Homo sapiens: one gene and its partners. The protein of the gene in region 1 interacts with the protein of each later gene in a pairwise test. Each region holds a gene or a part of one and is shown in the gene's direction. Other genes may lie near its edges. The genes, in order: ZNF746, FAM118B and FES.

Region 1 (3,650 bases):
GGCCTGACAACTTTAGAAATTTTCCCGTCTCGAGGTAGGACTGTACTAAAGGACTTGTCTCGAGCCTCTCTCGGGTGGCTGATGCTGTCCCTGGGTGTCTCTCTGGCCCTGTTCCAGTGGCCCCTATATCACCGTGAGGCCGCTTCTCTTGCCCCAGCATTGGGCATTGAAGTCACTGGCTGCCTCTATTCGAGAGGGGCCCGTGGGAAACATACTGATGATGTCTGAGCTTCCCAGTGCCTCAGAAAGGGGGACAAAAGACACTGGGTTCAGAGAGGTTGGGTCCTCGTGCCCACTCAGAAAAGCCCCCAGTGGGGGGACCTCAGAGTTTAGCCTGCTCTCCTCCCCAACAGTCTTCTGTCCTCCCCGTCCGTCCCCTAACCCACCGGCTCTGCTCTCCCCTTACCGCAGGTGTCCATTCCAACTTTTCCACCACCATCCCGCCCACCTCCTGGCAAACGGATCTCCCTCCCCACCATCCCTCTTCAGCATGCTCGGACGGGACCCTGAAGCTCAACACAGCAGCCTCCACGGAAGGTACAGGTGGCGAGAGGAGGAAGGGAAGGGCCATGCTTGCCTGTGGGGAGTACCTCGGTCCAGGCATCCCATTTTCACTGGTGAACTGCTCTGACCTTCCAGCCAACAGACATTAGGGTGTCTGCACTCTTATGACCCTTTGCACATTCTGTTATTTATCTCCTTGCCAAATCATAGGTGTCAGCAGCCCTTCTTGAGGACATCCATGTTTCAGTCTGTTGCTTTTTCATATGGTGTTAAGTGGTCTATTCTAACAAGCCTATCTCTTGAAGGATATACCTCCTCCCCAGCTTAGGAAACTGTGGCTTCTCTCTGGCATGGAGGAAAACAAAATTGAACTGAAACCACTTCTTAGATATTGGTACTACCAAAGACAGGTGTCTGAAGGCCGATTTCAGAAGAACCACCACCAAATTTATCTGTTAGCTTTCTGTTTACTTCTGTTTTGAAGACCAGTCACCTGTTACTATAATAACGTCATATTTTAGCACCCAAAAAACGTGCTAATAGCCAAGATCCCTGATGTGAAACCTCAGAATGTGAAGTTGAAGTACGCTTATATAAAATCAAACACATTCTTTTTTTTTTTTTTTTTTTTTTTTTTTTTTGAGGCGGAGTCTCACTCTGTCCCCCAGGCTTGGAGTGCAGTGGGGCGATCTCTGCTCACTGCACGCTCCGCCTTCCGGGTTCACGCCATTCTCCTGCTCAGCCTCCCAAGTAGCTGGGACTACAGGTGCCCGCCACCACGCCCAGCTAATTTTTCGTATTTTTAGTAGAGACGGCGTTTCACCATGTTAGCCAGGATGGTCTCAATCTCCTGACCTCATGATCCCCCCGCCTTGGCCTCCCAAAGTGCTGGGATTATAGGCGTGAGCCACCGCGCCTGGCCAAACACATTCTTATTCACTAATATTTTTATCATTAGCTGGTGGGTCCATTTATTGAATGCTGCTGCATGTCAAATAGCTCACTAAGGTGCTTTCAGACATGTTGTCTGGTTTAATCCTCACACCTGTGAAGTGGGCATTCACAGATGAGCTGTGGGTTAGAAACTGCCTGCAGCCCACAGCTGGTGTGTGGCCGAGCTGTCTGAACCCCCATTCCCTGCACTGTGGTGGGGCACAGTGCCTGCAGCAGTTCGAATTCCTTTCTGAGGATCAATTCATGCTTAGCCTTAACAGCCAAACTGAAAAATGGAGCCTGGGGAGCAGATATGGTGGCTTGTCCTGTGGTGAAGGTGCCAGAACACTGGTGTCCTCGAGGGGGAGGCAGCCTCACAGCCACCAGGCTGCTCTGCTGAGCTGCCCTCTGGGCTCAGCCACGAGGGCCTGGGTGGAGTTTGTCTGGCCAGGCAGCTGCTGAGCAGGTGATGGTGGCAGATCGTGGCTCGCTCAGCAGTTAAGGGACAGGTCAGTATCTGTCTTTCTGTCTTTCTCAGCAGATGTAAAAATTGTAATAAAAACAGAAGTCCAGGAAGAGGAGGTGGTGGCCACACCCGTACATCCTACTGACCTAGAGGCTCACGGGACCCTGTTTGGACCAGGCCAAGCCACACGGTTCTTCCCTAGTCCTGCCCAGGAAGGAGCCTGGGAAAGCCAGGGCAGCTCCTTCCCCAGCCAGGACCCTGTGCTGGGGCTGCGAGAGCCCGCCCGGCCTGAGAGGGACATGGGTGAGCTCAGTCCTGCTGTGGCCCAGGAGGAGACCCCTCCTGGGGACTGGCTCTTCGGAGGGGTCCGGTGGGGCTGGAATTTCCGGTGTAAACCGCCAGTGGGCCTGAACCCGAGGACGGGGCCCGAGGGGCTTCCTTACTCCTCCCCGGACAACGGAGAGGCCATCTTGGACCCCAGCCAGGCCCCAAGGCCATTCAACGAACCCTGTAAATACCCTGGCCGGACCAAAGGCTTTGGCCACAAGCCAGGGCTGAAGAAGCACCCCGCGGCGCCCCCCGGGGGCCGGCCCTTCACCTGCGCCACGTGTGGGAAGAGCTTCCAGCTGCAAGTCAGCCTGAGCGCGCACCAGCGCAGCTGTGGGGCGCCCGACGGGTCGGGCCCGGGCACAGGCGGTGGCGGCAGCGGCAGTGGCGGCGGCGGTGGCGGCAGCGGTGGGGGCAGCGCACGGGATGGCAGCGCCCTTCGGTGTGGGGAGTGCGGCCGTTGCTTCACGCGCCCCGCGCACCTCATCCGCCATCGCATGCTGCACACCGGCGAGCGGCCCTTCCCCTGCACCGAGTGTGAGAAGCGCTTCACCGAACGCTCCAAGCTCATCGACCACTACCGAACGCACACGGGCGTGCGGCCCTTCACCTGCACCGTCTGCGGCAAAAGCTTCATCCGCAAGGACCACCTCCGCAAGCACCAGCGCAACCATGCAGCGGGCGCCAAGACCCCGGCCCGAGGCCAGCCACTCCCGACGCCGCCCGCACCTCCTGATCCCTTCAAGAGCCCCGCCTCCAAAGGACCTTTGGCCTCCACAGACCTTGTGACCGACTGGACTTGTGGCCTCAGCGTCCTGGGACCCACCGATGGCGGGGACATGTGAGCGCCTCCAGCCCCATAGCCCCTGCCGGCCGCACGTGTAAAAAGCCCCGTGTGCAGGCAGCAGGGCGGCGTGGAAGCTTCAGGCAGACGCGGGACGGGGAGAACCAAATGTCCAAGTTGCTGAACTGATGATCACTGGAGAAAGAGAAACTATCCACCAGGACAGCTGCCACCTCTAAACCAAGTAGAATTCTCTGTGAAATGGGAGCGCCGTAGAATTTTAAGTAATTTAATTGCAAACCTGTTTTGTTTTTTGTTTTTTGTTTTTTTTTAATTCTTGAGGAAAAAGCTGGAAAATAGTAATAGGGCTATTTAAATTTTGTAGGTACTTTTGGTTTTCAGGGCGTGCATTTCTGTCACTATCTCACTGAGTCTGATAGTGTGTTGGAAGGTTGGCCAGTTGGGGACCCCTGGCCCACTGACTCCTGGGGATGGGGTCCTGTGTGTGCCCCTGCTCTGCCCAGTTGGGCTGAGTGGGCCTAGCGCACCAAGCCCCTGGGCAGTGAGGGCCATTGGGTCCCTTGGAGCACACCTCAGTGCAGCAGGAAGGACCCCTCCGGGAGTAGCGGTTGCATT
Region 2 (3,493 bases), on another chromosome or scaffold:
TGACACCACTTTCCAGGCCCTTTTCTTGGAGGCTGTCAAGCATAAATCTGACCTAGAACATTTCATGCTGGTTCGGAGAGGAGACGTAGATGAGTTCAAAAAGCTTCGAGAAAACATGCTGGACAAGGGGATTAAAGTCATCTCCTATGGAGATGACTATGCCGATCTTCCAGAATATTTCAAGCGACTGACATGTGAGATCTCCACAAGGGGTACATCAGGTAAGATGCATTTTGAAGCTGAGGGGAATCAGAGAACAACAGCTCTTCAGCCTTTTGTGTATTTGTGATGTGATGGGCAAAATAGTTGCCAAGATGAGGAATGTAATGACTGACCAAATTGTAAAGGAGGCCACAGTCTTCAGGTTAGACTAAAGTGCCACTTGGATTATGGGAAGACAGACAAAAAGGAATACTTGAGCAGTTCAATATAGACATAGGAAGAATGAAGAAAACAGATGTTCAGCCTCACTAGTTATCAATGAAATGCAGTTTGAATTTAGATTACAAAATAGCGAAGAAAGATCACCCAATTTTGGCTAAGGCTGTGAGAAAATAAATTTATTCATGGAGTATTTGTGGAAAGGTAAAGTTAGTACAACTTTTATGACCATAAATTAGAAGATGTAACAAAAATTTTCAAATCTTTGACCTAGAAATCCCATCAAAACAATTTATCCTAGAAGTTTCTCATAAGGAGATAATTGGATGATTGCACAATCACACAATTGTACAAAGATGCATGCGTGGGAATGTAATTTCCATTGAATGTAGTGGCAAAAAATTGGAAGGATCCTAAAATTGGTGGAGATTCTACAGATATGCCAATATTTATTTAATTGATGAAATACAATGAAACCATAGAAGGGAAAGTGTTTTCATTGCCATAAAAAAAAAAGTTAGAGACATATGAGTAAAGGAAGAAAAAGCAGGTTGTAAATACCATGGTCAGCTATATTCATATAGAATTGTACATTTTTTTTTTTTTTTTGGTGCGTGTAGAAATGTATCTGGAATGTTTACTAAATTAAGTGGCTATCTTTAGTAGGATTTAAAGTGTTGATTTTTTGGTTTCTGTATTGGCATTTTCTATGATGATTATGTATTATATTTACAAACAGAAAACTTACTTTTAGAAATGCTATTTGGAAACGGATAATGGTGATATTCAAGTCAGAGGATAGGGGTATCATACACTTGATATTTTACCTCCACATTCTAACAATAAAGAGCAAAATGGTGATTAAAGATTCAGCTGATTAGTGGCTGCAGGCAAATTCCCAGTAACCGCACAAAACACAAACATTTTTGGTATCAGCTAAACTGAAGAATGCTTTTTCAAAACCTCACATTGCCAGGCTCCAGAGTATGGCTAGTGTGACTCATCCATCTAATTCCAAAAAAACTTGGCTGTTGTGCACAGAATATTTCCTGAAAACTTATGTAAGTATTTTCATTGTCAACCTGAATGCATCTTAGGAGGGCAAAAGTACAGGTAATTTGTCCTGTAATCCCAACACTGTGGGAGGCCCAGGTGGGAGGATCACTTGAGGCCAGGAGTTCAAGATGAGTGTGAGCAACATAGTGAGAACCTGTCTCTGCAAAAAATTAGCCAGGTGTGGTGGCACACACCTGTAGTCCAGCTGCTTGGGAGGTTGAGGCAGGAGGATCACTTGAGCCCAGGAGTTGGAGTCTGCAGTGAGCTATGATTGCATCACTGCCCTACAGTCTGAGCAATAAAGCAAGACGCTGTTTCTAAAATAAATAACATACAGGTAATTTAATAAACATAAAGCAGTTTTCCTAAATCAAATCATCCCCAGATTTCTTAACTGAATCAGATGGCTTCAAGTAGAATTCTCCTGTAATGAAAAATTACACAGCTTCTTCCATGGCTATGCTTTGATGGAACCAGACTTTTAAAAGCCATCACCACATGAACAAGTCTCATTTGTGAAAACTATTTACTATTCTTTGTTGGAAATGAGTTTTTCTGGTGTCCTGCAGTGTTCTAGACTCTCCTGCTGTTGTTTGCCCACACTTGAGACTTTGAGAAGGCTTTTCTGTTGCACATGTTGTTTTCATTAACAAGACATACATATCCAAGTTCTACATATTTCTTTTGATCTATATGCTGAGGAAAGATGCTAAAGTTTAAAACAGCAAAATCCGTCTGCATAACTGTTTCTGTTGCACTAAATCTTAGCAAAAAATAAATATGTCTTTAGACTGTTGCATTACATAACAAAGAAGCAGTAAGGTTCCTTAGTGCACTAAGATTGCTCTAAGGAACCTTAACTGCTATTGTGGAATGGCACAAATTCTTTTATTAGCTGTGTAGGCTTCCTACCAGAGTAGCTTTCCCCGAAGTTACCCATCATTAAGGTGTTCTGTATCTTTAAACAAAATCAAGGATTTTCAGTATGGCCAGAGTGCTTTATGGGAATGGTCAGCTGAGTTTGTCATGTGAAATGTAGTAGAGCAGTTTCAGGTTAAAACATCATTTCATTTTGAAACGAGTCAACCTTATCTTTCACCCTTGCATAATGTTTTGAGTCTCTGTAGATATAGACTAATGAGAGGTTACAGGTCTTTTGCTGTTATTTTGTTTTTTAACACTGAACCTTTGCTATGTGCCTGGCATTGTGCTGTATACTCACTTTTGCATAGTGGAAATTAATTGTCTTCAAAGGATTCTATAGTATGTAGTTACACATATTTTGGAAAAATCAAGCAGTGGGAAAAAGAAAAATAATTCTTATAATCCATTACCATACAAGCAGTCGTTGTGGTACTTTTTTTTTTTTTTTTTTTGAGATGGAGTCTCGCTCTGACGCCAGGCTGGAGTGCAGTGGCACAATCTCGGCTCACTGCAACCCCCGCCTCCTGGGTTCAAGTGATTCTCCTGCCTCAGCCTCCTGAGTGGCTGGAACTATAGGCGCCCACCACCATGCCCGGCTAATTTTTTGTATTTTTAGTAGAGATGGGGTTTCACCATGTTGGCCAGGATGGTCTCGGTCTCCTGACCTCATGATCCACCCGCCCTGGCCTCCCAAAGTGCTGGGATTACAGGCGTGAGCCACCATGCCCGGGCCTATTTATTGATTTGAGATGGAGTTTCTCTCTGTCACCCAGGCTAGAGTGCAGTGGCGCAATCTCAGCTCACTGCAAGCTCTGCCTCCTGGGTTCACGCCATTCTCCTGCCTCAGTCTCCCGAGTAGCTGGGACTAAAGGCGCCCGCCACCACACCCGGCTAATTTTTTGTATTTTTAGTAGATACAGCGTTTCACTGTGTTAGCCAGGATGGTCTCGATCTCCTGACCTCGTGATCCACCCACCTCAGCCTCCCAAAGTGCTGGGATTACAGGCGTGAGCCACTGTGCCAGCTTTATTTTTATTTTATTATTATTACTATTTTTGATACAGGGTCTTGCTTTTTCACCCAGGCTGCAGTACAATGGCACAGTCATGGCTCACCACAGCCTTGACCTCCC
Region 3 (3,650 bases), on another chromosome or scaffold:
CCTCCACCGCTGCAGCTCATTCCGGAGGTGCAGAAGCCCCTGCATGAGCAGCTGTGGTACCACGGGGCCATCCCGAGGGCAGAGGTGGCTGAGCTGCTGGTGCACTCTGGGGACTTCCTGGTGCGGGAGAGCCAGGGCAAGCAGGAGTACGTGCTGTCGGTGCTGTGGGATGGTCTGCCCCGGCACTTCATCATCCAGTCCTTGGATGTGAGTGGGGCTGGGACCCGAGCCTTCCAGGCCTCACTCTTCCCCTCCCTTCCCTTCCCCAAGGGAAATGGCCTTTCAGGGTAGGGGGTAGCTGCCAGGTCTTGGATGCCTCCCTAGCAGGGCTGGCTGGAAGGGGCCACAGAGACCACCCTGTCCCTGCAACAAAATAGAGGCTTAAGTGTGAGTCCTCCCCTGGTGGGGCAGCAGGATGTCATGTGCCATCAGATGGCATCTTTTCTGGAGGTCTCTCTGCCCCTGGTCCTGGGCAGGCCCTTTCTCCCCTGCTGCTCTCCCTTTCCCCCTCCCAGGGCTCACGCCCCCTCAGAATGGAGGCTGCTGACCCCGGGTCCCCTGCCCTGCAGAACCTGTACCGACTGGAAGGGGAAGGCTTTCCTAGCATTCCTTTGCTCATCGACCACCTACTGAGCACCCAGCAGCCCCTCACCAAGAAGAGTGGTGTTGTCCTGCACAGGGCTGTGCCCAAGGTGAGCCTGCACCCAGCCTGGCCCATGCCACCTGTGGCAGGGCTTGGGGAGTGTGGGTCAGGCCCACCCAGCGTCTGAGCAGAAAGGGCTTTCCAGGCCCTCCGTCTACATACAAGATGCAGAGTGAGTGACCCTCAGGGCCAGCCTTGCTCTAGGTTTGGAATGTCAGGGCCACTCCTATGCCATGGGCTGTACACACCAGGTTGGTGCTTACCTGGTCAGGGCACCTGCCTGGACCCCGTAGTCATCTCAGTGTGCTCCCCACGTGGTCCCACCCCTGGTCACATATGGAGGCGCCAAAAAATGGAGGACACAGCCCTTCTAAGGGCCCAGCACCCCTTTTCTTCAGACTTCTGATCCCCTGTCTCCTCTCTTCCCCAGGACAAGTGGGTGCTGAACCATGAGGACCTGGTGTTGGGTGAGCAGATTGGACGGGTGAGTGCGCCTCTGCTGGCCTCCTTGTCGCTGGCGACTTCTCCTGAGTCGCGCCTGGGCCCCCTGCCCTACCACCCAGAGACCTCCCTGCCCCATCTGATTCCCCACTTGTACCCCGACTCCCTGCCCAGCCCCCACCACACACCATCCTCCAGGAAACGGGACAGTACCTACCCTGAAAACTCCCAGCAGACAGCTCTGCCAGCACCCTGACCTCATCACCCCCACCCAGGCCGCCCCCATCGAGCTCTTGTGTGCACGCAGGGAGACACCCTGTTACTGTAAGCCATAAGATACCTGTTTAGGGAAGAAGTCACTGTCCTAAAAATCAGAATGCTTTTCAAACCCAAGGGAGAGTGATTTTTGGATTTCCATGTCACTTCTCTCAGGAAGGGTGGCACATCGGAGGCAACTTTCCCTGCCTGCCCCATGTGCTCTCTAGGTTCCCCAGCGAGGGTCAAACTCCCAGAGAGCCTGGGTGAGGGGTCCGAACACGGGGGCCCCTCACCCAGGGGTAGGAAGCAGAATGGGTAGGAAGCGGAGAAGAGAACTGCGGGACTGGGAAGGCCGTGGTAGGAGCCCAAGACCGTTTCAGGGGAACTTTGGCGAAGTGTTCAGCGGACGCCTGCGAGCCGACAACACCCTGGTGGCGGTGAAGTCTTGTCGAGAGACGCTCCCACCTGACCTCAAGGCCAAGTTTCTACAGGAAGCGAGGTGGGTGATAAACTAATGATCACCACGGGTCCCGCATACACAGAGGTTACACTGCATGGCACAGTGTGAAGTGCTTGACCACCGTGGTGGTGTTTAGTCCTCGAGGCCCCCCATTGCGGGTAGTACCCCCTTATAGTGCCGAAGGGTAGAGGCTGCCCCAGGTCACACGTCCGGGTCTGCTGGCCTTGGAGGCCAAGCTCTTCTCCCATCATCCCTGGGGGGCCCTGGGGAGGCGGGCCTGGCCACGTAGATCCTGAGCAGCAGTGCCCTCCAGGATCCTGAAGCAGTACAGCCACCCCAACATCGTGCGTCTCATTGGTGTCTGCACCCAGAAGCAGCCCATCTACATCGTCATGGAGCTTGTGCAGGGTGAGCGCGGGGCGCTGAGCTCCAGGTAGGGCGCGCAGCCTGGTCAGGTGGCAGCCTTACCTCAGGAGGCTCAGCAGGGGTCCTCCCCACCTGCAGGGGGCGACTTCCTGACCTTCCTCCGCACGGAGGGGGCCCGCCTGCGGGTGAAGACTCTGCTGCAGATGGTGGGGGATGCAGCTGCTGGCATGGAGTACCTGGAGAGCAAGTGCTGCATCCACCGGTGAGTGGGCGGTGGCCACGGGCCCTGCCAACACCCCCGACCAGAGTCAAGAGGTACCTATACCCCTAGGGCCCCCCGCTGGACCATCAGGCATCAGCTCCAGAGGGGGAGTTGGCCTCTGTGGTAGACAGGGGTGCCCAGGGCCGGGAGCAGCTTTTGTCCTTGGCTTTCCTAGAGTGTTCAGCCAGGGCTGGGCAGGCGACTGTTGGCCAAATGAGCCCCTGCCCTGTCTCACCCAGGGACCTGGCTGCTCGGAACTGCCTGGTGACAGAGAAGAATGTCCTGAAGATCAGTGACTTTGGGATGTCCCGAGAGGAAGCCGATGGGGTCTATGCAGCCTCAGGGGGCCTCAGACAAGTCCCCGTGAAGTGGACCGCACCTGAGGCCCTTAACTACGGTACCTAGTCCCTGTCTACCCTGGACTCCATGGCCAGAGGCCAGGCCTGGGTCCTGCCGGCTGCCTCGCCCTGGCCCCAGGGAGGGTGCACTCACGCTGCCTCACCTCCTCGCCTCCTCTGCAGGCCGCTACTCCTCCGAAAGCGACGTGTGGAGCTTTGGCATCTTGCTCTGGGAGACCTTCAGCCTGGGGGCCTCCCCCTATCCCAACCTCAGCAATCAGCAGACACGGGAGTTTGTGGAGAAGGGTAAGCACCCTGTGATGACAGCAGCCTCAGGCTGCACCCTCTTCCAGATGCTCCAGCCGGACTCTTCTAACTCCCTTAATGCCAACCTTCCCACCAGGCAGAATAAGAATAACCTGGCCAGTTGCTCACGCCTGTCATCCCAGCACTTTGGGAGGCTGAGCTGGGTGGATCACTTGAGCCCAGGAGTTCAAGATCAGCTTGGACAACACAGTGAAACTCCATCTGTACAAAAAATACAAAAATAGACTGGGCACGGTGGCTCACACCTGTAATCCCAGCACTTTGGGAGGCCGAGGCAGGTGGATCACCTGTGGTCAGGAGTTTGAGACCAGCCAGACCAACATGGTGAAACCCCATCTCTACTAAAAATACAAAAATTAGCCAGGCATGGTGGCACGTGCCTGTAATCCCAGCTACTTGGGAGGCTGAGGTGGGAGAATTGCTTGAACCCAGGAGGCGGAGGCTGCAGTGAGCCGAGATTGTGCCACTGCACTCCAGCCTGGGCGACAAGAGTGAAACTCCATCTCAAAAAAAACCAAAAAACAAAAAATACAAAAATTAGCTGGGTGTGGTGAC

What was found.
Region 2: the proteins of ZNF746 (region 1) and FAM118B interact in a two-hybrid assay, tested with the Homo sapiens proteins (one large-scale study listed by BioGRID and IntAct).
Region 3: the proteins of ZNF746 (region 1) and FES interact in a two-hybrid assay, tested with the Homo sapiens proteins (one large-scale study listed by BioGRID and IntAct).

Annotation. Positions count from the first base shown.
Region 1 is NC_000007.14:149,473,809-149,477,458, reverse strand, and holds part of ZNF746 (zinc finger protein 746), read left to right. Parts: intron 1-411; coding exon 412-537; intron 538-1,975; coding exon 1,976-3,075; 3' UTR 3,076-3,650.
Region 2 is NC_000011.10:126,256,632-126,260,124, forward strand, and holds part of FAM118B (protein FAM118B), read left to right. Parts: coding exon 1-221; coding exon of another isoform or gene 222-239; intron 240-3,493. UniProt on the Homo sapiens protein: May play a role in Cajal bodies formation.
Region 3 is NC_000015.10:90,890,985-90,894,634, forward strand, and holds part of FES (tyrosine-protein kinase Fes/Fps), read left to right. Parts: coding exon 1-207; intron 208-569; coding exon 570-692; intron 693-1,073; coding exon 1,074-1,127; intron 1,128-1,722; coding exon 1,723-1,841; intron 1,842-2,115; coding exon 2,116-2,210; intron 2,211-2,306; coding exon 2,307-2,430; intron 2,431-2,669; coding exon 2,670-2,827; intron 2,828-2,951; coding exon 2,952-3,074; intron 3,075-3,650. UniProt on the Homo sapiens protein: Tyrosine-protein kinase that acts downstream of cell surface receptors and plays a role in the regulation of the actin cytoskeleton, microtubule assembly, cell attachment and cell spreading.